Linked DNA regions of Homo sapiens: region 1 is linked to region 2. Evidence: fine-mapped expression QTL. A gene starts in region 2. The other region holds a variant in brackets. All regions are shown on one strand. Distances are between the middles of the regions.

Region 1 (15,126 bases), 35 kb before region 2:
TTGCAGCATGTTAGCATCACCTGAGGAGCTTGTAAAAATCCCAGGGCCCTTGGCCGGGCGCAGTGGCTGATGCCTGTAATCTCAGCACTTTGGGAGGCCAAGGCGGGTGGATCACCTGAGGTCAGGAGTTCGAGACCAGCCTGGACAACATGGTGAAACCCCATCTCTACTAAAAATACAAAAATTAGCCGGGTGTGGTGGCAGGCACCTGTAATCCCAGCTACTTGGGAGGCTGAGGCACGAGAATGGCTTGAACCTGGGAGGCGGAGGTTGCAGTGACCCAAGATCATGCCACTGCACTGCAGCCTGGGCGATAGAGCTAAACTCAAGACTCAAAAAAACAAAACAAAACAAAAAATCCCAGGGCCCAGGTTGCACATGATACCAATGTAAAATGTCTGGGGTGGGGCCGGGTGTGGTGGCTCATGCCTGTAATCCCAGCACTTTGGGAGGCCGAGGGAGACGGATCACAAGGTCAGGAGATTGAGACCATCCTGGCTAACACGGTGAAACCCCGTCTCTACTAAAAATAAAAAAATTTAAAAAAATTAGCTGGGTGTGGTGGCACGCGCCTGTAGTCCCAGCTACTCGGGAGGCTGAGGCAGGAGAATCACTTGAACCCAGGAGGCAGAGGTTGCAATGAGCCGAGATCGTGCCACTGCACTCCAGCCTGGGCGACAGAGCGAGACTCTATTTCAAAAAAAACAAAAATGTCTGGGGTGGCTGGGCGTGGTGGCTCACGCCTGTAATCCTGGCACTCTGGGAGGCCGAGGTGGGTGGATCACGAGGTCAGGAGCTTGAGACCAGCCTGACCAACATGGTGAAACCCAGTCTCTACTAAAAATACAAAAATTAGCTGGGCGTGGTGGCACGCACCTGTAATCCCAGCTACTCAGGAGGCTGAGGCAGAAGAATCACTTGAACCCGGGAGGCAGAGGTTGCAGTGAGCTGAGATCGTGCCACTGCACTCCAGCCTGGGTGACAAAGCGAGACTCCGTCTCAAAAAAAAAAAAAAAAATGTCAAGGGTAGAAGGCAGCCATCAGAATATTTAAATGATTCCCCAGGTGATTCCAGTATGCACACTACCAGAGACTACGTGCTTTCAGTTGCCAGGCTCAGCCATGGGGAGCCATGGGAAGTTTTAGAACAGGAGAGGAGCCCAGTTTAGAGTTTAAGGAAAATCATTCTGTAGGAGGAACAGAATGTAATCTTGTGTGAAAAGGGTCCGGAAGCCCCAAGGGCAGTGGCAGGATCCTGCTAGGGTGATGGTGATCAGCCATCCCAGTTTGCTCAAGACTGGGGTGTCTCCTGGGACATGGAACCTGCAGTGCTAAAACCAAGAAAGTCCTGGGCAAACAGGGATGCTTGGTCATGCTAGATTCTCCTGATGTAGTTCTGTTTTCCCAGATTTTTGGGGAGACTGATGCCACAGACTTCGCATTCTAGAAATTCCTAAGAAAAGGCTGTCCATCTCCCTGTGGTGCATTCACCTGAGTCTCTGAGCCCTGGCAGGGCCCATCTCTTCTCCACCCAGCAGAGTGATCCTGGCCTATGGAATATAATTTAGCAGTAAAAAGGAACAAACTACTGATTCACACAATAATCCGGATGACCCTCAAGAATATTAGCCTGAGTAAAAGAAAACAGATGCAAAAGAGTTACATACTGCTTAATTCTATTTACATGAAGTTCCAGAACAGGTTCACCCAATCCGTTACTTTAAAACAATCAGGCCAGGTGTGGTGGCTCACGCCTGTAATCCCAGCACTTTGTGAGGCCAGGAGGATCCCTTGAGGCCAGGAGTTCCAGACCAGCCTAGGCAACACAGAGAGACTCCCCTTCTCTACAAAAAAAAAAAAAAAAAAAACTGGGCACGGTGGCTCACATCTGTAATCCCAGCACTTTGGGAGGCTGAGGCGGGCGGATCACGAGGTCAGGAGATCGAGACCATCCTGGCTAAAATGGTGAAACTCCATCTCTACTAAAAATACAAAAAAATTAGCTGGGCATGGTGGCAGGCACCTGTAGTCTCAGCTACTTGGGAGGCTGAGGCAGGAGAATTGCGTGAACCCGGGAGGCAGAGCTTTCAGTGAGCCAAGATCACGCCACTGCACTCCAGCCTGGGTGACAGAGCGTGATTCCGTCTCAAAAAAAAAAAAATGTTAAGTAGTTGGGCGCAGTAGCACATGCCTGTGGTCCCAGCTACTCGGGAAGCTTAGGTGGATCACTTGGGCCCAGGAGTTCAAGGCTGCAGTGAGCTATGATCTAAAACAAACAAACAAAAAAAAACACTTTACCCAGTTACTTGGGGGAGGACAGACATTGTGGCATCATTAAAGTTGTTTGAACAACAACAAAAAGGCTGTGTGCATGGCTCACACCTGTAATCCCAGCACTTTGGGAGGCAGAGGTAGGTGGATCGCTTGAGCCCAGGAGTTCAAGACCAGCCTGGGCAATATGGTGAGACCCCGTCTCTGCAAAAAATACAAAAAAAAATTAGTGAGCTGTGAACATGCCACTGCACTCCACACTGGACAGCAGATCAAGGCCCTGTCTTATTAAAAAAGTCAGAACAGGCTGGGCGCGGTGGCTCATGCCTGTAATCCCAGCACTTTGGGAGGCTGAGGTGAGCGGATCACGAGGTCGGGAGATTGAGACCATCCTGGCTAACATGGTGAAACCCCGTCTCTACTAAAAATACAAAAAAAAAAAAAAAAAGTCAGAACAGCGGTTGACTCTGGGGAGTTGGAGATGAGAAGGGGGCAACGGGAACTTTCTGGCAAGTGATAGTGATGTTTTGTATTTGAGAACAGTTTCCTTATGCAGATGTATGCATTTGTTTTGTTCTGGTTTTATTTTTATTTTTATTTTTTTTAGACAGGGTCTTGCTCTGTTGCCCAGGCTAGAGTGCAGTGGTACAATCATAGCTCACTGCAGTGTTGAACTTCTGGACTCAAGTGATCCTCTCACCTCAGCCTCCCAAGTAGCTGGAACTAAAGGTGTGCACCATCATGCCCGGCTAATTTTTTTTTAAGTTTTTGTAGAGATGAGGTCTCACTATGTTGCCCAGGATAGTCTTAAACTTCTGGACTCAAATGACCTTCCTGCCTTGGCCTCCCAGTGAGCCACCGCACCTGGCACTATGCTTTTGTTAAAATTCACTGAATCAAGCAATTAACACCTATGCATTTTACTATATAGATATTTTACATCAAAGACGGGGGAAAAAACCTGTGAATGAATACTGGGCTGTAGTTAACAATGTGCCTGCAGGCCGGGTGCCGTGGCTCATGCCTGTAATCCCAGCACTTTGCAAGGCCCAGGCGGGTGGATCACCTGAGGTCAGGAGTTCAAGACCAGCCTGACCAACATAGTGAAACACTGTCTCTACTAAAAATACAAAATTAGCTGTGTGTGGTGGCGAGTGCCTGTAATCTCAGCTATTTGGGAGGCTGAGGCAGGAAAATCGCTTGAACCCAGGGGGCAGTGGTTGCAGTGAGCCGAGATTGCACCTCTGCATTCCAGCCTGGGTGACAGAGTGAGACTCCGTCACACACACACACACACACACACACACACACACAACAAAAAATTAGGAACAAAACCTAAGTCTGATTATGCTTTTCTGCTCAGAACACTCCACGATACCCAGAGGAAAAGCCAAGTCTTGACAGTGGCCTCTGAGCAGGGCGACCATAAGTTCTGCTGGCCCAGCTTCTGCCTGCCTTCCCAGCGTGATTAGTACTGCCCTTGTTTTCATTCTCCCAGTGTGAAGGATAATTTAAGTGCTTGCCCTGCCTGCGAGGCCCAGCTGACCTGAACTCACTCCCCTGCCCCTCCCTCCCTCCGCTCCAGTCACACTGGCTCTCCTTTGCCCTGGCCATTCCCTCTGCCTGGAATGCCCTTCCCCAGAAACTTGCAAGGCTCTCTCCCTCACCTCCTTCCAGCTTTTCTTCAGCCTTTGCCTCAGTGAGGCCCCTGCCTCGCCCCCGCTTAAAATCACACCCTGCTCTCTCCCCATCTCCCGTTCTGTGCTTGCTTTTTCCAGCGCACTCTAACTTCCTGCTTAGGATATAACTGCCTGAAGGCAGGTGCCATGAGGGCAGGGATTTTTTTTTTTCCTGTGTTCTTTTTTTTTTTGAGACAGAATCTCACTCACCCAGGCTGGAGTGCAGTGGTGCGATCTCGGCTCACTGCAACCTCCGCCTCCAGGGTTCAAGTGAATCTCCCATCTCAGCCTCCCGAGTAGCTGGGATTATAGGCACCCACTACCAGGCCTGGCTAATTCTATTGTATTTTTAGCAGACATGGGGTGTCACCATGTTGGCCAGGCCGGTTTTGAACTCCTGACCTCAGGTGATTTGCCTGCCTCGGCCTCCCAAAGTGCTAGCCACCACGCCCGGCCATTTATTCTGTGTTCTTTAAGCTGCATCCTCAGGTCCTAGAACAGTGCCCAGCAAACAGTAAGTACACAATAAGTACCTATTGCTATGAATAAAGGGAATCCTCTGCCCTCCTGGGGCTTGCAGGCTGGTGCTGAAGAACCAAGCAGACAGGGACCACTACAAAGCAACAGCCACCACTTCACGACATAGCAGAGGAGGGGTCAGGGGCTGAGGGAAGGCAGAAGAGACACCCCAGAAGCTGAGACTTGAAAACTGCTTTGGCATCTGCCAGGCGAAGAGGGGAAGGGAGGGGCTTTCCTGGTGGAGCAGCCAGTGTGAGCAAAACCCAAGGGGTGAGAGATGGCAGCAGGCATCTGGGGGCTGTGAGCAGTTCAGAGAGTGACTGCAGGTGTGGGTATGCAGCAGGCTGTGGGCTCCATCCTGCAGGTAGTAAGGACAGGAAGGTTCTAACTGGGGGCAGTGGCATGGACAGATTTGGGTTTCTGAAAGATTGCCCAGCTACTGGGTGGAGCATGGATTGGAGGTGGGCACCAGGAGGCTGTTAGTTTTGCTGGCACCTAGTAAAGCAGTGTTGCCCTGAAGAAAGGGGCTAACTGGAAAATTACTTAAGACAGAGACCTAACAGGACGTGGTGGTTCCTGGAAGGTGACTCTGACTTCTGGTGTCACCATCTTGGCTGGCTCCTGGGATGGTAGGAATAGGTTGTGGGGAGGATGAGGCTGGGGTCTCTGGGATATCCCAATGGAGATGTGATGCAGCCATTTGGCTCCTGGAGTCTGGAGGTGGGGGTGGAACTTAGAGTCAGAGAATGAGGAACTGTTGATTCAAAGGGCAGGTGGGACCCAGCAGGGAGAGTGTGCACAAAGAGAAGCAAGTCCAGGGCAAGAGACAGTTCCCAGACCAGGAAGAGGGGAGTGCCCAAGGACAGATGAGGGCTCAGAGGGGAGGAGTCAGTGAGCCCCAGAGGTGGGGCCCGAGAGCCAGGGGTAGAAGGATTTCCACAAATAGAGTGTGGAATTTGGGGAGGAGGTGGAAAGGGGAGACAGCAAGGTGGTAAATAAGGGCTGTGGCTCTGGAAGAGATAGCTTTTTAAATTTACCATGTTCACTGTTTTTTTTAAGATACAGGGTCTCGTTCTGTCATGCAAGCTGGAGTGCAGTGGCACAGTCATATCTTACTGCCGCCTCAACCTCCTGGGCTCAAGCGAGCCTCCCGCCTCAGCCTCCCGCCTCAGCCTCCCAAAGTGCTGGGATTCCAGGTGTGAGACACCATATCCAGCCAAACTGGCTTTTTTTTTTTTTTTTTTTTTTTTTTTTTTGAGATGGAATCTCACTCTGTTGCCCAGGCAACCTCCGCCTCCCACGTTCAAGTGATTCTCCTGTCTCAACCTCCTGAGTAGCTGGGACTACAGGCATGCACCACCATGGCTGGCTAATTTTTGTATTTTTAGTAGAGACAGGGTTTCACCGTGTTAGCCAGGCTGGTCTCGAACTCCTGACCTCAAGTGATCCGCCTGCCTTGGCCTCCCAAAGTGCTGGGATTACAGGTGTGAGCCACCACGCCAGGCCCAAACTGGCTTTTAAACCAGGTCAAAGTGCCGGGCGCAGTGGCTCAGGCCTGTAATCCCAGCACTTTGGGAGGCCAAGGCGGGCGGATCACGAGATCAGGAGATCGAGACCATCCTGGTTAACACGGTGAAACCCTGTCTCTACTAAAAATACAAAAAATTAGCCGGGCGAGGTGGTGGGTGTCTGTAGTCCCAGCTACTTGGGAGACTGAGGCAGGAGAATGGCGTGAACCTGGGAGGCGGAGCTTGCAGTGAGCCAAGATCACGTCACGGCACTCCAGCCTGGGCGACAGAGCGAAACTCCGTCTCAAAAAAAAAAAAAAGCCAGGTCAAAGAATGGGGCATGAGAGGGTGGGGGCATGCCTGGGGGGAATCAGGACAGTTTCCTAGGCCCCGTGACCAGGAGAGAGTCAAGAATGGGGGAGACTCAAACTTTAGCTTCTCAAGGCTGCTCAGAAATGGACACCCTGTCTGGGGCCAGGCTTCTGTCCCCAGCCTCAGGGACAGGAGAGTCTCTGGTAACCTCATTTGTAACATGGGGCAATAGGACAAAACCTGCCATTTATTGAGCACTTACTA[C/T]GTCCCAGGCCAAAGGCTGTCTCTCCATGTGTGGCCTAATTTAACTCTCAGAATACTCTCATCAGGCTGATGTCACTATTATCTCCTATCTCCATTTGTTTTTTTTTTTTTTTTTTTTTTGAGACAGAGTCTCCCTCTTTTGCCCAGGCTGGAGTGCAATGGCGTGATCTTAGCTCACTGCAACCTCCTCCTCCCGGGTTCAAGAGATTCTCCTGCCTCAGTCTCCTGAGTAGCTGAGATTACAGATGCCCCGCAACCATGCCCAAGTAATTTTTCTATTTTTAGTAGAGACAGGGTTTCACCATGTTGGTTAGGCCAGTTTTGAACTCCTGACCTCAGTAATCCAACCACCTCAGCCTCCCAAAGTGCTGGGATTACAGGTGTGAGCCACCATGCCTGGCCTATTATCTCCATTTTATAGATGAGAAAACAGATGCACAGAAAGGTTCAGTCACTTGCTCAAGGTGATACAACAAATGAATGCAGATGCTGAGATTCAAACCCGGAACCTGAATTCTGAGCTTCAACACTGCACCACTAACCCACACAAGGGACTTTCCCATTTACAGAACACTCTCCTCCCTCGGGAGTGGTTGAGGGGAGTCATGAGGTGGCCACACACCCAGCAAACAGCCGACATTACCATGAAGATGGCCCTCCAAAGAAGTCCACATCTGAATCCCCAGAATCTGTGCATGTGTTGCTTTATATGGCACATGGGCTTTTGCAGGTGTGATGAAACTAAGGATTGTGAGATAGGAAGAGTGTCCTAGATTATTCAAATGGGCCCAGTGTCATCACAGGGTCCTTGGAGGAAGGAGGCAGGAGAGTTAGAGAAGATGTGACGATGGAGAGAGATTGGAAGATGCTACACTGCAGGTAGCCTCTAGAAGCCGGAAAAGGCAAAGAAAGAGATCCTCCTCTGGAGGGAACTACTGCTGAGACCTTGACTTTAACCCAGTGAGACTAACTTTGGACTTCTCCAGAACTGTAAGAGAATCAATGTCTGTGGCTTTTTCTTTTTTTTTTTTTTGAGATGGAGTCTTGCTCCATCACCCAGGCTGGAGTATAGTGGTGCGATCTCGGCTTACTGCAACCTCCCGGATTCAAGCAGTTCTCCTGTCTCAGCTTCCCGAGTAGCAGGGATTACAGGCGCCCGCCACTATGCCCAGCCAACTTTTGTATTTTTAGTAGAGACGGAGTTTCACCTTGTTGGTCAGGCTGGTCTCACACTCCTGACCTCAGGTGATCCACCCACCTCGGCCTCCCAAGGTGCTGGGATTATAGGCATGAGCCACTGTGCCTGGCTAATGTCTGTGGCTTTGAGCCCCTATATGTGTGGCAATTTGTTACAGCAGTGATAAGAAACAGTTACACTACATTGCAGCAAGCCTGGCTTCCCTGGACAGCACTGGCTCCACCAACACCACTGCAGCTGCTGTCGGAAGCATCCTTACATTTCCTTTGTTTGTTTAGACACAGGGTCTTGCTTTGTTGCCCAGATTTGAGCACAGTGGTGCAATCATCACTCACTGCAGCCTCAACTTCCCGGGCTCAAGCAATCTTCCCACCTCAGCCTCCCAAGAAGCTTGGACTACAGGCGCGCACCAGTATGCCTGGCTAATTTTTTCATTTTTGTCTTGCTTTGTTGCTCAAGCTGGTCTCAAACTCCTGGCCTCAAGCAGTCCTCCCACCTGTGCCTCTCAAAGGCCTGGGATTACAGGTGTGAGCCACCACACCTAGCCTACAGTTTTTAATGCTTCTTTAAAGTTCCAATTTGGTCCTCTCTGAACCTCAGTATCTTTCTTTATTAAAAATAAAAATAGGGCCAATATACATGACCCTATAGGCACAGAGTGAGAGGGCCTTATATTACTCGAAGCTTCCCACAAACCCCTGGGGCAGATGAGGCCTAGTTATTGTTCCCATTGCTCAGATGAACAAACTAAGGCTGAGAGTAGAAACAGCCTGCCTAGAGCCACTCAGGGAGTAACAGAGCCAGGACTTGAACCAGGGCTTCTGACTTGAGTTCTAGCACAGAGGTTCATGTCTCAGAGCCCAGCTCACATGCCACCTCCTCAGAGAAGCCTGCCTGGAAAACCCCAGCCCATTCATGTATTCATTTATTCATGAAGCAGCTGCTGGGACTGCCCTGTTCCCAGTGTTGTGTGGAGACCCCTCAGGAGCCCACAGCCTCGTAGACAAGACAGACACACAAACCACGGATCCCAGAACAGCCTGATAAATGATGAAACAAGGAGAATGAAGCCCAAGGGGTTGCTGGAGCTCAAAAAAGGGGAAACTCACTGAGCCTGGAGTCAGGGAAGGCTTCTCGGAGGAGATGGTGATTGAGATGGGGATAAGTTAGACCCAACCAGAAGTGTGGCCAGGCATCCCAGGTGGAGGAGTGGCTTCTTCAGGGCAGGGAATGGGTTGGTCATCCCAGGCCCCCAAGTCCCTCTGGGCCTCTGTGTTATTATGTATGAAACGTGAATAGGCTGGGCGCGGTGGCTCACGCCTGTAATCCCAACACTTTAGGAGGCCAAGGCAGGAGGAACACTTGAGCCCAGGAGTTCAAGACCAGCCTGGGCAATGTAGCGAGACCCCATGTCTACAAAAAATAAAATTAGCAGGCTGGGCATGGTGGCTCATGCCTGTAATCCCAGCACTTTGGGAGGCCGAGGCGGGCAAATCACTTGTGGTCAGGAGTTTGAGACCAGCCTGGCCAACATGGCAAAACCCAGTCTCTACTAAAAATACAAAAATTAGCCGGGCGTGGTGGCAGGCACCTCTAATCCCAGCTACTCAGGAGGCTGAGGCAGGAGACTTGCTTGAACCCAGGAGGCAGAGTTTGCAGTGAGGCGAGATTGCGCCATTGCACTCCAGCCTGGGCAACAAGAGCAAAACTCTCTAAAAAAAAATAGTGATAAATAAATAAATAAATAAATAAAATTAGCTGAGTATGGTGGCACACACCTGTGGTCCCGGCTACTTGGGAGGCTGAGGTGGGATGTCAAGGCTGCAGTGAGCCATGATCGCACCACTGCACTCCTGCCTGGGCAACAGAACAAGTCTGTGTCTCAAAAAAAAAAAAAAAAAAAAAAGAATCATGGCCTAGCTACCCAGAGTTTTGATAATTGTTAGGCCCAGGCGAGGGCTGAGCAGGAAGAGGGGTCCTGGGCCTCCCAGAGGAGGAGGTGAAGGTCGGGAGATAGGACAGACCTGGGAAGTACTGAGAGGCAGGGTCCTGGCTCAAGCCCCCACCCCACTCTGCCTTGTGGTGTCACTACAGGAAGGTCCTCTCAGAGCCTCAGTGACCACATCTGAGCAATGGTGCATGAGACAAAACTGTCTCCAAAGACCCTCCCCAGCCCTGACGGGGAAATGACATGACACAAAATTACAAAAGGGTCTTTATTTGTAAAAAGCCAAAGGGGCCCCTGGGGCAACAGGACAGGCAGGCCGGCTTCTCAGGGGTCAGGGGCATTTGGGCAGATGCGCTTGAGTGGGGGGGCACCCTCCGAGTCCTCTGTGTCACCCTGGGCTGCCTCAGGGACAGGTGGCACTGGCTCAAAGACAGGGTAAGCTTCGGGGGCCTGGAGAGGAAGGGTGGACAGGCGTGAGCTCCACAGAACCCAGGCGTCCAGCCTCTGAGCCTCTGCCTTCTCCAAAGCCTCCACTCCCCTCCCCTCCTGGGCCCGGGAGGCAAGCCCAGGGCCAGATGCCCAGGATGCAGAGGAAGCAGGCACCAAAAACAACAACGACAGTGACACTGTGTGGAGGAACGAACCTGATATTTGATATTTCTGAAAATGCCTCGAGGTAGCCTCGTGAGAAATGTCAGAGGTTTATAAGGAATTTTCTTATGCTAATTATACAGTTAGATATTTTTTGATATTTTTTGAAAATGCATGGAGGAGCGCCATGATTTTGTCAGGCTTTATTTATTTATTTATTTTTGAGAAGGAGTCTCGCTCTGTCACCCAGGCTGGAGTACAGTGGCGCGATCCTGGCTCACTGCAGCCTCCGCCTCCCGGGTTCAAGCAATTCTCCTGCCTTAGCCTCCCGAGTAGCTGGGACTACAGGCACGTGCCACCACGCCCGGCTAATTTTTGTATTTTTAGTAGAGACGGGGTTTCACCGTGTTAGCCAGGATGGTCTCGATCTCCTGACCTCATGATCCACCCGCCTCCGCCTCCCAAAGTGCTGGGATTACAGGCGTGAGCCACCACGCCCAGCTTTGTCAGGCTTTTAATGGTCTCAATCAGCCCTGATCCAGCCCTCAGCACTTTGTCTCTGAAACACCCTTTCTTTTTCAGTCCCAAGAACCCAGCCCCTAAGCCTTCAGCTCTGTCCCAGGTCTGCCTCTCCTCCAGGCCCTCAGGACGCAGGCTCCAAGCCTTCGACTGCCCAGATCCCCCATTCCCTCCAAGACCCAGGAGTCCAGCCTTCTGGCCTCTCTCACCTCAGCTTCCAGCAGTTCTGGAACAGGCTCCTCCTTGGTCAGCATTGGGGGTTCGTCGGTGCTGCCAGCAGTTATGCCCCCGGGATCTGGAACGTCAAGGTAACAAACATCCCCTGAACAGCCACTCTGTGCCAGCAGCACAGACAGTGGGGGAAACAGATGGTCACAGGCCCCAGTCACAGAGGGCAGAGGGCCATGGGAGCAGAGAGGAGAGAGCAGGAACCTGGCTGTGCCCCAGGAAGCAGAGGAGGGAACACTGATGTGGGAGCTCGAGGGTGATGCGGTGGACAGGAAAGTATGACACGTGAGACAGAGGGAATGCATGCTAAGTTGCCACAGATTCTGGGCTTGGACTGCCTGGGTTCAAATCCTGACCTTGGGCCAGCTACTTCATTTCCATGGGCCTCAGTTTCCCCATCTGTAAAATGGGGATAATGATAGTAATTACCTCATGTGGCTGTTGTGAGGGTCAGATGAGCGGATGCAGGTAAAGCACAGTGGCTGGCACACAGTAAGTGCTCAATAAATGCTTGCTACCATTTTTATATTAGCAAAGGTATACAACTGCTTGGCACTGTCTAGACCCAGACCCAGTCCACAGGCCCACATCAGGGTTTTCTTTTTGTGTGTTTGTTTGTTTTAGTTTTTGAGACAGAGTCTCGCTGTGTCCCCCAGGCTGGAGTGCAGTGGCGCGATCTCGGCTCACTGCAACCTCCGCCTCCCAGGTTCAAGTGATTCTCCTGCCTCAGCCTCCCTAATAGCTGGATTACAGGCATGTGCCACCACGTCCCGCTGATTTTTTGTATTTTTAGTAGAGACAGGGTTTCACATTCTGGGAGGCTGAGGCAGAAGGATCGCTTGAGCCTAGGAGTTTGAAACCAGCCTGGGCAACATAGTAAGACCCTGTCTCTATAAAGAATAACAACACTAATTAGCTGAGCATGGTGATGCATGCCTGTAGTCCCAGCTACTCAGGAGGCTGACTGAGCCCAGGAATCCAAGGCTGCAGTGAGCCGTGATCACGCCTCTGCATTCCAGCCTGGGCGACAGAGTGAGACCTTGTCTCAAAAAAAAAAAAAAAAAAGCAAAGCTTAAAAAATGAAGGAAAAAGTTGTTCTGGCAGCTGTGTGGAGGTGACTAGAAGAGACCAGCTGGAACCAAAAACGGGTGAGAAATGGGAAGGCCAGGGACAGGGAGCCTAGGAGGAAGAGGTGCCAATCAGACGGGTTTGACTGCATGGAAGAAAGCAGAGCTGGCTGGGCACGGTGGCTCAAGCCTGTAATCCCAGCACTTTGGGAGGCCGAGGCAGGTGGATCACGAGGTCAGGAGTTCAAGACCATCCTGACCAACATGATGAAACCCCGTCTCTACTAAAAATACAAAAATTAGCCGGGTGTGGTGTTGTGCAGCCTGTAATCCCAGCTACTCAGGAGGCTGAGGCAGGAGAATTGCTTGAACTTGGGAGGCGGAGGTTGCAGTGAGCAAGATCGTGCCACTGCACTCCAGCCTAGGTGACAGAGTGAGACTCCATCTCAAAGGAAAAAAAAAAAGCAGAGCTGATGAGGACACAGGCCCAAGATGCTGGCTCACTGGCTGAGTTACTTCTCTGGGTCTCAGTTTCCTCATCTATAAATAGGGATCATAACAAGATCATCACCCTTATAAGGTTGTAGTAAAAATTAAATGAGAAAAAAACACGTAAAGTGTTGGCTGGGCACGGTGGCTCACACCTGTAATCCTAGCACTTTGGGAGGCCGAGGCGGGCGGATCACCTGAGGTCAGGGGTACGAGACTAGCCAGGCCAACATGGTGAAACTCCATCTTTACTAAAAATACAAAAATTAGGCCAGGCACGGTGGCTCACGCCTGTAATCCCAGCACTTTGGGAGGCTGAGGCAGGCGGATCACCTGAAGTCGGGAGTTCGAGACCAGCCTGGCCAACATGGAGAAACCTCGTCTCTACTAAAAATACAAAATTAGCGGGGCATGGTGGTGCATGCCTATAATCCCAGCTACTCGAGAGGCTGAGGCGGGAGAATCGCTTGAACCCGGGAGGCAGAGGTTGCGGTGAGCTGAGATTGTGCCATTGCACTCTAGTCTGGGCAACAAGAATGAAACTCTGTCTCAAAAACAAACAAACAAATAAACAAAAAAAACAAAAATCAGCCGGGCATGGTGGCATGCCTGTAATCCCAGCTACATGGGAGGCTGAGGCAGAAGAATCGCTTGAACCTGGGAGGCAGAGTTTGCAGTGAGCCAAGATCGTACCACTGCTCTCCAGCCTGGGCAACAGAGCAAGACTTCATCTCAAAAAAAAAAAAAAAAAAGGCTGGGCGTGGTGGCTCGTAATCCCAGCACTTTGGGAGGCCAAGGCGGGCAGATCACCTGAGGTCAGGCGTTTGAGACCAGCCTGGCCAACATGGCGAAACCCCAACTCTACTAAAAATACAAAACCAGCCGAGCATGGTGGTTCATGCCTATATTCCCAGCTACCCAGGAGGCTGAGGCAGGAGAATTGCCTGAACCCAGGAGGTGAAGGTTGCAGTGAGCCAAGATTGTGCCGTCGCACTCCAGCCTTGGCAAGAGCGAAACTCTCTCAAAGAAAAGAAAAAGAGAAAAGAAAAAAACCCAACCACGTAAAGTGTTTACCAGGGCACCTAGCACACAGTAAGAGCTCAATAAATACTAGCTGTTGTTATTCCTATTATTGTTAATCACCCCTATGACTATCACTATTATTTATTCACTCAACAGATATTTACTGAGCACCTACTATGTGTCCCATATTATTCTGAGGATACAGTAGTGAACAAGATCACATAGGGCCAGGCACAGTGACTCACGCCTATAATCCCAGCACCTTGGGAGGCTGAGACAGGAGGATCATTTCAGGCCACGAGTTCAAAACCAACCTTGGCAACATAGCGAGACCCTACCTCTACAAAAAATTTAAGAATTGGCTGGGCATGGTGGCACACACCTGAGTCCCAGCTATTTGGGAGGCTGGGGCCAGAGGATCCCTTGAGCCCAGGAGTTTGAGGCTGCAGTGAGCTATGATTGCACCAGAGTACTCCAGCGTGGGTGACAGAGACCTTGTCTCTAAAAAAAAGGGGGGGGAGGGCCGGGTGTGGGTGTGATGGCTCACACCCGTAATCCCAGCACTTTGGGAGGCTGAAGGTGGAGGACTGCTTGAGCAAGTGAGTTTGAGACCAGCCTGGGCAACATGGTGAAACCTTATCTCTACAAAAAATACAAAAATTAGCCAGGTGTGGTGGCATATGCCTGTGGTCCCAGCTACTTGGGAGGCTGAGGCGGGAGGATCGCTTGAGCCCAGGAAGTTCAAGGCTGCAGTGAGCTATGATCACACCACTATACTACTCCAGCCTGGGTGACAGAGCGAGACCCTTTCTCAAAAAAAAAAAAAAAAAAAAAAAAAAAAAAGGATCAATATGGGCCCAACATTCAGGAAACTGACATGAGAGTGAGGAGAAAGATAAACTAGTAAAAAATTAATTTACATGAAAATCTCAGACAGTGATATGTCTGTATAGATTCTAAGAGACCAGAGGAATGAGACTGTAGCTACAGGGAGATTCTGCAGGAGTCGGAAGGCGCCTTGAGGAGGGTGCACAAGACGGGGAGCAGGTATAGGGATGAGCTGGTAGGTTAGACTCTGGAGAAGACAGGACTTAGAGGAGAGAGCTCCTGGGAGGTACCTGGTCCTACCTCTCTCTTGGCCCAGCCGTGGGGGCTGAGCCTCCTCAGGGACCCCTTCTGGGGGTCCGGCAGGTGACACAGGGCGGCTGGGCTGGGGGGTGCCCCCAGGACTGGGCTCTGTGCCCTTTTGCAGGGAACCTTCCGAATGGAAACTCTGGTTGCTGTTCTCATCTGCGGGAGCAAGAGCCGAGATGGTTGGCCTGAGATCCCTAGTACACTCCTTCAGTCCCCACAGCCCCCCGCGTTTCAGGATCCCTACCTACCATTAAGATCCAGCAGGATGAGAGGGCCACCCCCTCGGGGACTGGCGCCCCTGCCCCGACGTTCCCGGCCACGGGATCTCTCTGCCCCGCCACCTGCCCGCCTTCGCTCCTGGGGGTTAGAGGATTAG
Region 2 (14,185 bases):
CTAGGGCTGGCCGGCAGGGCCTGTGCCAGGCAGGTGGTGATATCAGGGGATTATAGGAGGCCCATTAAGTGGGTGCACCGAGGCATGGGCCGTGCCATGGTAGTAGAGCAGGGGGAAGAGGAGGTACAGGAGGGGGAGAGTGAGGCAGATACTCGATCTGGTACTATTCACAGGTGGACGGCCTACATGGGGCAGGCCTCACCTGGGAGGGCAGGCTAACCCCACCAGAGCCCACCACCACCCGCCTCTCTCTGGGGCTTCCCTTTCTCTCTCTCTGACCCCCACCCCAGGTGGCTTTTGTTTTTGTTTTTGTTTTTTGAGACGGAGTCTCGCTCTGTTGCCCATGCTGGAGTGCAGTGGCATGGTCTAGGCTCACTGCAACCTCCACCTCCTGGGTTCACACCATTCTCCTGCCTCAGCCTCCCGAGTAGCTGGTACTACAGGTGCCTGCCACCACGCCCGGCTAATTTGTTGTATTTTTAGTAGAGACGGGGTTTCATTGTGTTAGCCAGGATGGTCTCGATCTCCTGACCTCGTGATCCACCCTCCTCGACCTCCCAAATTGCTGGGATTACAGGCGTGAGCCATGGGCCTGTCTTTTTTTTTTTTTTTTTTTTTTTTTGAGATGGAATCTTGCTCTGTCACCCAGGCTAGAGTGCAGTGGTGTGATCTCGGCTCACTGCAACCTCCACCTCCTGGGTTCAAGTGATTCTCCTGCCTCAGCCTCCCAAGTAGCTGGGATTACAGGCACATGCCACCACACCTGGCTAATTCTTATATTTTTAGTAGAGACGGGGTTTCACCATGTTGGCCAGGCTGGTCACAAACTCCTGACCTCAAGTGATCCTCCTGCCTTGGCCTCCCAAAGTACTGGGATTACAGGCGTGAGCCACCACGCCCAGCCCCCTCAAGGTGCTCTTCACATCTGGAGGAATTAGCCGCATCCCAGGCCCAGCTCTGTTGTCCAAGGCATCTGTCTCGGTAGAGGTCAGAGGTCAGCAGCTCTGCCCCCTCTACCCCCATCGTGCCCCACCCTGCAGGCCAGCTCATCTTCTGTTTTGGTTACACCAGAAGCTGAATTCTTGGGAATCCCAGCAATTTAGGAGGCAGTGGGCTTCGGTTCAAGTCCTGCCTTTGTTCATCTTTTTTGTTTGTTTGTTTTGAGACAGTCTCACTCTGTCACCCAGGCTGGAGTGCAGTGATCTTGGCTCACTGCAACCTCTGCCTCCCAGGTTCAAGCAATTCTCGAGCCTCAGCTTCCCAAGTAGCTGGGATTACAGGTGTGTGCCACCAGGCCCGGCTAATTTTTTGTATTTTTAGTAGAGACGGGATTTTGCCATGTTGGTCAAGCTGGTCTTGAACTCCTGGCCTCAAGCAATCTGCCCGCCTTAGCCTCCCAAAGTGCTGGGATTACAGGCATGAGCCACTGCGCCCAGCTCCTGCCTTTGTTTATCACTAGCTTGGACAAGTTCCTTAACCTCTCTGAGCCTCAGTTTGCTCCCTTATCTGGAAACTGGGATAATAATTCCCACTCACAGGTTCTAACTCACAGGGCACACCCACCAAGTGCCCTGACCCCTCCTATGAGGCCTCTCCTGGGCTTGTCAAGGGTTGCCCCAGTAACATATAATGCCGCCAACCAATGGCAAAGACTCAATGTCCCATGAGCCTGTGCCTGGAGCCCAGCCCCATGCCCCGGCTACACATGTGCTCCCAAGAGATCTGGTACCTTTGCTCAAGCATGACCCAGTGTTGTCCAGAAAACCACACAGTGGGGCCCATTCAGAACAGAGGCAAGGGTGCTGGGCGCAGTGTCTCACACCTGTAGTCTTAGCACTTTGGGAGGCTAAGGTGAGGGGATCGCTTGAGGTCAGGAGTTCAAGACCAGCCTGGGCAGCATAGCAAGACTCCTGTCTCTACAAAAAAATACAAAAATTAGCCAGGCAAGGTGGTGTGCACCTGTAGTCCTAGCTACTCGGGAGGCTGAGATGGGAGGATTACTTGAGCCTGGGAGGTCAAGGTTTCAGTGAGCTGTGATCACCCCACTGCACTCCAGCCTGGGTGACAGAGTGAGATCCTGTATTTAAAAAAAAAAAAAAAGGCCGGGAACGGTGGCTCACACCTGTAATCCCAGCACTTTGGGAGGCTGAGGTGGGCAGATCACAAGGTAGGAGTTTGAGACCAGCCTGGCCAACATGATGAAACCCCATCTTGAACCCGGGAGGTGGAGGTTGCAGTGAGCTGAGATTGCGCCACTGCACTCCAGCCTGGGCGACAGAGCAAGACTCTGTCTCAAAAAAGAAAAAAAAATAGTACTTAAGAAAAAGATTAATAACGTTATCATTATTGTTAAAATACCTGTTCATTAGAAAACTTGAAGCAGATCATAAATGAACAAAGAAGAAACCAACAAACCACCCTATTTTACCACCCAGAAATAACTATGACTGTTAACATTTAGTGAGCATCATTCTAGACACCTGATCAGATAAATAGAAAAAGATTTTATGACAATCAATTAATACTAGATATCCTATTTTTAAAATTACATTTAACTTTATTTGAATTTAACAAAAGGAACAGAAATAGAAGTTTAATTGAAAGAACTGTGGAACTTCAGATAAATGTTTCTTCACTATAAATAATATTTCCTGTAAGATTCTTCCAAGTTTAAAAAAAAAGATTTGAAAACCATGAAGGATAAACTCATTATTTATTTATTTATTTAATTTTATTTTTGTGAGACAAGAGTCTCGCTCTGTTGCCCAGGCTGGAGTGTAGTGGCACAATCTTGGCTTAATGCAACTTCCACCTCCCAGGTTCAAGTGATTCTCCTGCCTCAGCCTCCCGAGTAGCTGGGATTACAGGCGCCTGACACCACACCAACTGATTTTTGTATTTTTAGTAGAGGGTTTCACCATGTTGGCCAGGTTGGTCACAAACTCCTGACCTCAGGTGATCCGGCTGCCTCAGCCTCCCAAAATGTTGGGGTTACAGGTGTGAGCCACTGCGCCTGGCCCCCCTAAGGTGTTTCTTCACACCTGGAGGAATTAGCCTCACCTCAGGTCCTGCTCTGTTGTCCAATGCGTCTGCCTTGGCAGAGGTCAGAGGTCAGCAGCTCTGCCCTCCCACCCCCACCTCCATTGTGCCCTACCCTGCAGGGCGACTTGTCTCCATCTTTGTTTTGGTCACACTAGAAGCTGAATTCTTGGGAATCCCAGCAATTTAGGAGGCAGTGGGCTTTGGCTCAAATCCTGTCTTTGTTCATTTTTTTTTTTTTTTTTTGAGACGGAGTCTCACTCTGTTGCTCAGGCTGGAGTGCAGTGGCGCGATCTTGGCTCACTGCAACCTCTGCCTCCCAGGTTCAAGCGATCCTCAAGCCTCAGCCTCCCGAGTAGCTGGGATTACAGGCATGCGACACCATGCCCGGGTAGTTTTTACATTTTTAGTAGAGACCAGTTTTCACCATCTTGGCCAGGCTGGTCTGGAACTCTTGGGCTTAAGTGACCTGCCTGCCTTGACCTCCCAAAGTGCTGAAATTACAGGCATGAGCCACCATGCCCAGCCCAGTCGCTATTTATTTTTAATATTTTCCTCAGTCTTCCCCTACACCCAGATTTTTTCATTATATTACTACTTTCAATTTACTAGTATTCATAACATGTATAGTATATTCCATTCTGTACCTCAGACTTTTTAAATTATTTAATCTTAGATTGATATTTAAATATTTTCAATGGTAGCCAACTATGTATTTATTTATTTGTATTTTTTATTTTTAGAGATGAGGTCTCATTCTGTTCCCCAGGCTGGAATGCAGTGGCTCAGTCATGGCTCACTGCAGCCTTGACCTCCCAGGCTCAATCTCCTACCCCAGCCTCCCGAGTAGCTGGTACTACACGTGGGCACCACCATACCCAGTTGATTTTGATTTTTTTTTTAATTTTGCCAGTAGAAACCCCGCTATTGGCCTCGTGTGGTGGCTCATGCCTATAATACCAGCACTTCCAGAGGCCGAAGATCACTTGAGCCCAGGAGGTCGAGGCTGCATTGAACTATGACTGCACCACTTCACACCAGCCTGGGCAAGAGAGCAAGACCCTGTCTAAAAAAAGAAAATAAACCCAAACCCAGCCATTGATGCCATCCATTCCCCCAGGATCACTGGCCAGTGAAGTCTACTAACATGTTCCTCGGCCATCTGAAGCCATACACACTGCTGGGCACTTCACTTCTGGGATTTTCAGTAACCAGATCCACTGCAGCTTGGAGAGCTTGGCTTTTTGGTGATTGCTGATCCCAAGGCTGACCCTGAGCTTCTCACAGAGGCATTTTCCGTTCACTCGCCCAAGTTGGTCAGTGTCAATCAGACTCCTCTGTTCTATATCGATGTTGCCATCCCACATAACAAGAGTTCAATTATTGGGTGCCTTGCAGTGGGTGGTATCCCAGAAAAAGCCTCCATCCTGTGGCACTAACTTCCCCTGGGAACCGCAGGAAGCTGTGCTTGTCATAAGGGCTGTCCACAGGTTTTCTAGTTCTTCTCCCAAGCATGTGGCAAGAGTTGGCTTCTCTAACCCCTTTAATTAGTTATGGCTATCTCTGTAATATATATACATATTTTTTGAGACGGAGTCTCGCTGTCGCCCAGGCTGGAGTGCAGTGGCGCGATCTCGGCTCACTGCAGGCTCCACCCACCGGGGTTCACGCAATTCTCCTGCCTCAGCCTCCTGCGTAGCTGGGACTACAGGCGCCCGCCACCTCTCCTGGCTAATTTTTTGTATTTTTAGTTGAGACGGGGTTTCACCGTGTTAGCCAGGATGGTCTCAATCTCCTGACCTCGTGATCCACCCGCCTCGGCCTCCCAAAGTGCTGGGATTACAGGCGTGAGCCACCACGCCCGGCCTATCTCTGTAATATTTTTAGACAGGGTCTCACTCTGTCGCCCAGGCTGGAGTGCAGTGGCTCGATCATGGCTCACTGCAGCCTGGACCTCCTGGGCTCAAGCGATCCACCCACCTCAGCCTCCCGAGTAGCTAGGACTACACATGTGCACCACCACTCCAGCTAATTTTTGTATTCTTTTGCAGAGACACAGCCTTGCCAAGTTGCCCACGCTGGCCTTGGGCTCCTGGGCTTGAGCAGTCTGCCCAACTCAGCCTCCCAAAGTGTTGGGATTACATGCATGAGCCACCTTGCCTGGCCAGGGTTAGCTATTTGACAGGTCAATAAAATGTGAGCTGAATTGACATGTCACTTCTAGGCAGAAGCTATAAAAACCGCCTTCTTCTTCTTCTCCTTCTCCTTCTTCTTCCTTCTTCTCCTTCCTCCTCCTTCTCCTCCTTCCTCCTCCTCCTTCCTCCTCCTTCCTTCTTCTCCTTCCTCCTCCCTCTTCTTCTTCCTTCTTCTTCTTTCTTCCTCTTCTCCTTCCTTCTTCTTTCTTCCTTCCTTCTTCTTTCTTCTTCTTCTCCTTCTTCTTCTTCTTCTTCTTCCTTTCTTCTCCTTCTCCTCCTCCTCTTCTTCTCCTTCTTCTCCTTCTTCTTCTTCTTCTTCTTCTTCTTCTTCTTCTTCTTCTTCTTCTTCTTCTTCTTCTTCTTCCTTTCTTCTTCTCCTTCTCCTCCTCCTCTTCTTCTTCTTCTTTTTGAGTTTCACTCTTGTTGCCAGGCTGGAGCACAGTGGCATGATTTTGGCTCACGGCAACCTCTGCCCCCCCGGTTCAAGCGATTCTCCTGCCTCAGCCTCCTGAGTAGCTGGGATTACAGGTATGTGCCACTGTGCCTGGCTAATTTTGTATTTTTAGTAGAGACAGGGTTTCTCCATGTTGGTCAGGCTGGTCTCAAACTCCCGACCCCAGGTAATCCGCCCACCTTGGCCTCCCAAAGTGCTGGGACTACAGGCATGAGCCACCACACCCGGCCCTTTTTTTTTTTTTTTTTTTTTGAGACTGAGTCTCGCTCTGTTGTCCAGGCTGGAGTGTAGTGGCATTGTCTTGGCTCACTGCAGCCTCTGCCTCCCAGGTTCAAGCAATTCTCATGCCTCAGGATCCTGAGTAGCTGGGACTACAGGTGCACGCCACCACGCCCAGCTAATTTTTGTATTTTTAATAGAGACGGGGTTTCACCATGTTTGCCAGGCTGGTCTTGAACTCCTGGCCTCAAGTGATCCAGCTGCCTTAGCCTCCCAAAGTGTTGGGATTACAGGCATGAGCCACCATGCCCGGCCTTTTCTTCTTCTATTTTTATTTTTTTAAATACAATCCACGGTCCTGGACTAGATTTCAGGACTTTTCAAGAGAAGCTGGAAATCCATTTTGCCTGAGAAATGTGTTGTTGTTGCTATGCCAAATTAAATGCACACATGACTGGATTTGTTGTTTCTGCATGTTGTAATAGTTCTGAGCATGAGTTCGGGAGTCTGGGGTTTGAATTTTGGCGGTACCACTCATCCATTCTGCATAATTGAGGGTCCCAGTTTCCTCGTCTCTAAAATGGAATTCTACCTCATAAGGTTGTGTGGGTTTTTTTTTTTTTGAGATAGAGTCTCGCTGTCGCCCAGGCAGCAGTGCAGTGCTGTGATCTTGGCTCACTGCAACCTCCGCCTTCCAGGTTCAAACAATTCTCTTTTCTCAGCCTCCTGAAGAGCTGGGACTACAGGTGCACACCACTACACCTGGCTAATTTTTCTATTTTTAGTAGAGATGGGGTTTCACCATATTGGTCAGGCTGGTCTCGAACTCCTGACCCCAGGTGACCCACCTGCCTTGGCCTCCCAAAGTGCTGAGATTACAGGCGTGAGCCACCATGCCCGGCCCTCAAGATTTTTATGAGGACCACATGAAATGCTGAAAGCACTTAGTAGTATGTCCAGGAGCAGGGTCTTGCTCTGTCATCTAGACTTGAATGCAGCGAGTGGCATCGTCATAGCTCACTGCAGGCTCAATCTCTCAGCCTCAAGCAATCCTTGCCCCTCAGCCTCCTAAGTAGCTGGGACTACACGTCCAGCTAATTTTTGTATTTTTGTAAAGATGGGGCCTCACTATGTTGCCTTGGCTGGTCTTGAACTCCTAGTTTCAAGTTATCCTCTCACCTTGGCCTCCCGAAGTGTTGGGATTATAGGCGTGAGCCACTGCAACTGGCCAGGACAGTGATTGATTGATTGATTGATTGGTTTGAGACAGAGTCTCACTCTGTCGTCCAGGATGGAGTGCAGTGGCACGATCTCAGCTCACTGTAACCTCCACCTCCCGGGTTCAAGCAATTCTGCTGCCTCAGCCTCTCGAGTAGGTGGGATTACAGGCACATTCCACCATGCCCGGCTAATTTTTGTATTTTTAGGAGAGACAGGGTTTCACCATACTGGCCATTGCTGGTCTCGAACTCTTGACTTCATGATCCGCCCGCCTAGGCCTCCCAAAGTGCTGGGATTGACAGTGGCATTTAAATAGAGACCTTTTAGAAAAGTGGGAAAGTAGAAAAATAAATAATAAATACATAAATAGAGACCTGTAAATGATGAACAGTGAACTTGGTGGAGAAGTGAGATGGGCATGGGGAGGATAGCCCTCAAGCAGAGGGAACAGGGTAGAAATCAATCATGCAACACCAAATTCAAGCAGTGAGGATAGAGGGGACAGCCAATCCTCTAGGGAGGGCTAAGGATTTCCTGACTGATAAAGCCTGAGCGGCAAAGAAGCCTCCTATCCAGCCTTGGGCAAGTCTCTGCCAAGCTGGGACTTCACACTACACTGGCCAGCCATTGACTTCCCTGATAGAAAAACCACAACCAACAAGTCCTCGCTGGGGCTGGTCTGCCAAACACAGAAGACAGAGGGAAGGGGAGGGGGCTGTCTTGGGGTCAGAAGTGAGCAGGTTTTCCAGGGGAGAAGGAAGATTGAGAAGAGGGGTATGGCTGCTGGCTCACACCTATAATCCCAACACTTAGGGAGGCCAAGGCGGGAGGCACACTTGTGGCCAGGAGTTCGAGACCAGCCTGGGCAACATAGCGAGACTTCGTCTGAACAAAAAAAAATTATAGTTTAAAAATTAGCTGGGTGTAGTGGCGCGTGCCTGAAGTCCCAGGTATTCACAAGGCTGAGGGAGGAGGATCGCTTAAGCCCAGGAGGTCGAGGCTGCAGCAAACTATGATCCTGCAACTGCACTCCAACCCAAGTGACAGAGCAAGACCTTAAAACACACACAAAAAAAACCAAAAAACGGCAGAAAGATGAGAAGCCGTTCCATTTGCATAGGCAGTTGAAGTGTCTAGGCAGAGGCCTCCAAGGCTGACTGGATATCAGGCAGGGGATGAGGCTGGACAGCCTGCAATGCCTCCAACTCCAGGTTGCGGAAATCGTGTTTGTAGTACCTCAGTCGAATGGAGATTGAGCGCCCCCTGGGAGCAGTGCTCGGTAACAGACGCTGGAGGACCCCGATGAGGAGGGGCGGGGGTCGGTTCAATCTGGGAGGAGCCTGCGGGTCAGTTTTCTTCTCACAGGAGCGAACTCTGTCCGGCATCATGGATTCCTGGGCTCCCAGAACGGCTGGGCTGGAAGGGACCTTAGAAAGGGATCTACCACCGCGTGCCCCGTGCCAGAGTTGGGCACTTTGGTGACAAGAACATTGGCTTGTTTAACACTCACAACTGTGCTTCGAGGTGGGGATCATTATCCCCATTGTCCCCATTTTGCAGATGAGAAAAAGCAAGGTTTGGTGGCTTCCCGGGGCGGGGCGGGGATTCGCTGTGACTCCAGGTCCTTTTCCCCGGAGCCCGCACGTCTTGTAAGACACTGATTCCCGGAGGTCTGAGGAGCAGGAATCGAGTGGGAGGTGCCCAGGCTTTCTAGGGAACAAGAGTGTGAATGCACTCTCGACGAGAACCACGCCCCCCTGTTCGACAAGACTGATTCCTGCTGCCTTCCTTTAAGGGCCCTCCCCTGAAACGCGAAGTCCTCGCCCCATGGAGAGGCGGACATTCTTTATTCCCGGATCGCCCGACGTTTTTCTCCCCCACCCGCACTGATCCCCACTGGTGACATAAATCCTTCCCCTCCACTCGCGAGTGAAAGCTTGGGACTACATTTCCCGCCAGGCTGTTCAGAAGCCGGTGGCGGAGAGAGGAGAAAAGAGTCTTTCCGTTTCCGTCGCCTCGCAATTTGGCGTGTCCGCCGGGATTCACATTTCAACAGCGACGTCCTTTCTCTGTTGGACTCGGCAAGGAACTACATTTCCCAGCAGGCACCGGCGCAGAGGTCGAGGGGCGAGGTCGCCATCTTTTTCGTAGTCCTCTCCCTCATTTCCGCAGGGAAGAGGCCAGACGCCTGGACTACACATCCCATGTCGCAGTCGCCCCGGCCCTGCAGCCGCCATCTTTGCCGGTGGCCCCGCCCCATCCCCTTCCATTGTCTCGACTTGAGATGATAGACGGGAGCCGGGAGACTGCAACTCCCGTCAGGCCGTGCGCCACTGGTGGGGGGGATTTCGAGACCACAGGCGGGCGAGGTGCCCAAGGTGGTGGAAAGCGGAGACCGGGAGAGGCTAGGTAGCCTGCCATCTTTACGGTAGTCTCCTCGTCCTCCTGGTTCCGCCATTCTTAAGGAACACTGGAAGGCTATAAAACTACTAATCCCATCGCACCTCGTAAGATCGACTACTAGTCAGGTGTATGTCCCTCTTCCGCCATCTTGCTTGTAGTCCTCTTTCCTTTTCACCTTTCCATTGTTCCTGACGAGTAGAAATGGCAGCGGGAAGGCAGCAGATGGACTGCGACTCCCGTCAGGTACCACACACGCGGAGGGTTGTGGACAGGAGGGCGTGTGAGTGCCTGGGAAGGAGGTCGGGTCGGGGGAGAAGGCCATCTTGTTTGTAGTCATCGTTCCCTCTCCTTCTCGATGTTCTGCAACTGGGAGCCTCGGGGCAACGGGACTCTAACTCCCGGCATCCTCGGCTCCCGGCTGGGCACGCCCTCCGCCGTCCTGTTTGTAGTTCCCGCTGTCCCCAGCGTCCTATTGTTCCCCCGTAGCATCAGTGGCCGCAGGACTACAACTCCCGTCGAGCCCTGCGTGCGTTCGTCCTGGAAAGTGGAGGTGGTGGAGGAAGGAGGGGGAAGGGGGCGGGGTTCCTCTGGGAGAAGGAGGGAGTAAAGAGGGGGAGGAGGAGGAGGAGGAGGGAAGGAGGAGGGAGGGGAGGGGAGGGGGGAAGAGAGGAGGAAGGAGGAAGGAGCTGAGGAGGGATGAGAGAGGCGGCCAGGGCCCCGGGCCGTAGCAGCGCGGGGCTGGGGGACCAGGGGGGCTGAGACACCCCAACTGCCCCCTTCCCCTTTCCCTCTCCCCCTCTATCCTTTCCTTCCACCCTCCCGCTTGAGGAGGGGGATTTATTCAAATTTTATTTAAATCCCTATCTCCCGAGGGTCGCGCGCTTGGGGGAGGGGGAGAGGTCGGGGGTGCGCGCGGGCTGGGGGGGGCGGGGCCGGAGCAGCTTCCTTCACCTCCCCCTCCGCTCGCCTCGCAGCCGTAGGGCAGGGGGTCGCAGTCCAGGGGCGGGCCCAGGGGAGGGGGGCAGGTTACAGCGACCCCCCCCTCCCCGGGAACCGGCGGTGGGCGGGCTTGAACCCCGGAAACGGTGGGGGGGGCCCAGGCCTGGCACTGGACCCCTGGGCAGTGGGGTCCGGGAAGGGGCCAGTTAAAGGGCCAGGGGCGCTGGGGAGAGGCGGGGCGGGGTGGGGGGAGGGGAGCTGGGACTCGGACCCGGGACTGAGTGGGCCCCGGGCAGAAGCTGAGCACCCTGCGCCCAAGGAGCCCCCGTTGGCCTGGGGGGGCTGAGGGACTGAGCCTCCCAGAGCAGGACCTCCCCCTGGAAGGGCCGCGCCGCAGCCCGTGGGAGGGCCTCGCCCCCGGCGCCCCCCATCTCCACTCGCCGCCGTCCCGGCCTCCGCCGGAGGGAGGGGCCGAGCGCCCTCGGGGGGCCGTGGACCCCGGCGTTCTGAGCGTTCCGCGCCCCGCGCCGCCCGGCCCCCCCGCCGCCGATGGCCGCCGACCCGCCGGGAGCTGCCGAGAAGGGAGAGATGGCTCCCGGGACACGTGTGAGGTGGGTTCATGCGGCTCCTCCTCACCCCCAGACCTGGGCAGCGCCCACTCCCATTCATCCTCAGCCCGGCCTCTCTCTACCTTCCCCGCCCCCAGCCTCACCCTCTCTCTACTCCAAACTCATCTCCAGCCCTCCTTCCTATGACCTCTCCACCCTGGGGAACTGGCCCTCCTTCCTAGACCCTGCTTCCCCTTGAAAGCCCCCACCCCCGCCTGCAGTCGCCGCCCTCCAGGCCCCTCCCCTGGAGCGCTGGAGGGCCCCTTAGCCCCATGGATGGGTATGAAAGTCCCCGGAAAGGGGGAATCTGGGGTAAGACTGACTGGGAAGAGACCCTCCAGGCTTCTAATTCCACATGGGATCTTGGAGGATCTGGTTTCCATGGGAGGGGGAGCCCAAGGGATTCTAGATGATTAGGGATGAAAGCAGCCCGGGAAGCTGGGGGTCCTAGGACTGAGCCCATCCTCAGTTCTGGGAAGATGTCAGGCTGGATTCTAGAATCCCAAGGAATTTGGGAGATTGCCCAGGTGGACCTGAGGGATCCAAGAGGAGGGTGTCCTGGAGGAGGGAACCCTGTGGGGAACAAGAGGGGCTGAGATCTTGGGCTGAGAAGGGTCTCTGAAGAAGCATCTCCAGGGCTGTCAGAGCTCTGGGGAGTTAGTGGGCAGAGGAGATCGTTAGGGACTTGGGGGCAAGGATCTCGCTGGATCTGGTGAGGATAACTGGGTTGAGGGGAAGAGAGATTGGATGGCTGCTGTGGATGAAAAGGTTGGTGGGGCGGGGGGGAGGAAAAGTCCGGAGCTTCCGTCTAGGAATCTCTGGGTATCTGGGAGGTGAATCTGGGCAGTTTACCCCAGATTGAGGTTGGGGAGAGCCTGGGATATTCTACACTCGGATAACAGGGGAAGAGTTGGGATCTCTCCAAGCTAACACCACGGACAAGGAGTGCCTGGCCTTTCCAAGGAGCTCCGGTGTGGGGATGGCAGAGGAGAGGGCCTCGGTGTCCCCTCCTGCTCCCTGGGCTAGGGAAGGGACCCTGAGGAGGCGGTAGAGGAGCGAGGCCAGGAAGCAGTTCTTGGGCTCCTCTTGAGCTGCTGCAGGGAGACAGGCCTTGAGTAGAGGATTGGCCCCCAGATACACAGAAGGGGGTGACCTCCTTGTCCCCCTGAGGAAGAGGGCAGGCTCTAGCTGCCTGTAGGTGGAGGGACCTGTCAGGGGTCTCCCAGGCCAGGGCCCCAGTGGGCCCATCTGACCCTGCCACCATCCACCTACAGCCCTCGGCGTTGCTGACGCCCCCAATGTCGTCGAGCAGCCGGGGGCCGGGGGCCGGAGCGCGCCGACGCCGAACCCGCTGCCGCCGCTGCCGGGCCTGTGTGCGAACTGAGTGCGGGGATTGCCACTTCTGCCGAGACATGAAGAAGTTCGGGGGGCCCGGGCGCATGAAGCAGTCGTGCCTGCTCCGGCAGTGCACTGCCGTGAGTTCTGCCCCCACCTTTGGGCTCTGCCCACCCTTCCCAATACCTTCTTGGAATGGCTGGTGACTGCCTCCCAGCCTGTACTGTGGAGTGGCTGTTTGTTCACTCGTTCATTTCTTCCCTTCATTCACTAGTTTGTGTCAGTATCCATTTTTGTCCTCAGCTCCAAGCTGGGGGCAGTGTCCAGGTGCACAGAAGGATCTGACCCAGTCCCCACTTTCAGGCTCTTCCCAGCTCTCAGAGTCACACCCCCGCAGAATGCCCAGCCCCTGCTCTATCACCCCCCAAGATGTCTCTGTGCAGGAGGGGGCCCATCCCCAGAGATGGCCCCCTTCCAACAGGTCTTGCCCTTCTCTGGCCTCTTCCTCACCCAGGGTGGTCTTGGATTTGAGGCTAAGCTCACCCTTTATGTGACCTTGAGCAAATCATGCTGAATGAACCTCAGGTTCCTTCTCTGTAAAATGTTTCCTTTGCTGAGTTGTAAAGATTAAACAATGGCATGGATGCGAGTGTGTCTACCACAAGGCCCAGCACACAGTAGGGATCGGGGAAGCATGGGTTTCCGCCCTGCCTTCCTCATCCTTTGAGCCTCCCTGGGCTCCAGAGCACGGCCCCTCCCCAGCAGCCGCGAGGAGCCAGCTGCATCCTGCGTCCCCCTCCCCACTCTGCCACCTCCCTCTCTTCCTCCTGCCACTCTTTCCTGGTTGGTCTCTTCACCCCTCAGCCCCTCACTTCTTTTCCTTTATCCCCCAACCCCTTGCCTCACTTTTCCTTCTCCCCCTACCTGCATCTTCCTTGATCCTGCCGCATCCTTGTTATGACTCAGTCCTACCACTGTCTTCCTCAAAGTCACACTGTCTGAGGCTGCCCCCACTTCCCCAAGACTAGTGGCTTCCCTAGTGTTCCCAGGGGGTCTTGCCAAAACCGGATTCATTGTGGGATTCAGAGCAACCCTTGGGCTGCTCATGGAGCGACCTTGGTATCACCCTAAGCTGTCTTCCCCACCCTCTGAGTGTTACTGTCCTCCTCTCCAAAGCCAGCTGTAATTTCAGGGTCCCACTGGCCCTGGGTCCAGCTATAACAGTCACAGGTGATAACAGCTACATATCAGTGTCTCTCGCGTATTATTTTGCTCTCCCAAGAGTCCTGCGAGGGAAAGATTCTTAGCCCCATTCTGCAGATGCAGAAACGGAGACTTAAGGAGGTTAAATCAGTTGCTTGAGGTCACACTCCCAAAAGGAGCAAACTCAGGATCAGACCCAGCTTGACCCGTGGGTGCTGCACCTCATCCGTCACCTGGCCAGGGTCCCTAGAAGGAAGGGTCTTTCCCCTGTTGTTAGCTTTCGGGGCCCCTGATGTCCCCTCTCCCCCAACAGCCCGTGCTCCCACACACAGCTGTGTGCCTCTTGTGTGGGGAGGCTGGGAAGGAGGACACGGTGGAGGGAGAGGAAGAGAAATTTGGTTTGAGCCTCATGGAGTGTACAATCTGCAACGAGATCGTCCACCCCGGCTGCCTGAAGGTGATGGCCCTGGGACCCCGGCGTCTGGGGTGGGGCAGATTGTCAGGGAGCAGAGAGTGGGGGATCACCCTGGCTCTGGGCTTCCTGGCCAACCCCCCACTCACTGCCCTCC

Which allele goes with the higher level. Alleles are on the strand shown, and positions count from the first base shown. SD is a standard deviation of normalised expression in the study named.
In carriers of allele C in region 1, the expression in monocytes after LPS of the gene that starts at base 10,194 in region 2 tends to be lower than with T alone (moderate effect, 0.64 SD a copy in Quach 2016).

What was found.
Region 1: its variant is fine-mapped to the expression of FBXL19 in monocytes after LPS (Quach 2016, PIP 0.95).

The regions. Positions count from the first base shown.
Region 1 is chr16:30,877,842-30,892,967 of GRCh38, forward strand. It overlaps BCL7C (BAF chromatin remodeling complex subunit BCL7C), which reads right to left. Exons shown (of 6, transcript NM_004765.4): 3 at 14,999-15,107; 4 at 14,745-14,906; 5 at 11,019-11,104; 6 at 9,954-10,149. The coding sequence ends at 10,024. The region is part of intron 2 of MIR762HG (MIR762 host gene); the gene reads left to right. Among named protein-coding and RNA genes, the nearest start is that of MIR762, 8.5 kb to the right of the region's middle. RefSeq lists enhancers at 4,799-5,299, 9,615-10,116 and a silencer at 7,104-7,183. The variant C/T (reference allele first, on the strand shown) is at 6,554.
Region 2 is chr16:30,913,379-30,927,563 of GRCh38, forward strand. It overlaps FBXL19 (F-box and leucine rich repeat protein 19), which reads left to right and starts at 10,194. Exons shown (of 11, transcript NM_001382779.1): 1 at 10,194-11,081; 2 at 12,353-12,553; 3 at 13,930-14,073. The coding sequence starts at 12,377. It overlaps FBXL19-AS1 (FBXL19 antisense RNA 1), which reads right to left and starts at 9,891. Exons shown (of 1, transcript NR_024348.1): 1 at 5,941-9,891. RefSeq lists enhancers at 8,264-9,232, 8,973-9,792, 9,233-10,200, 9,823-9,912, 9,953-10,112.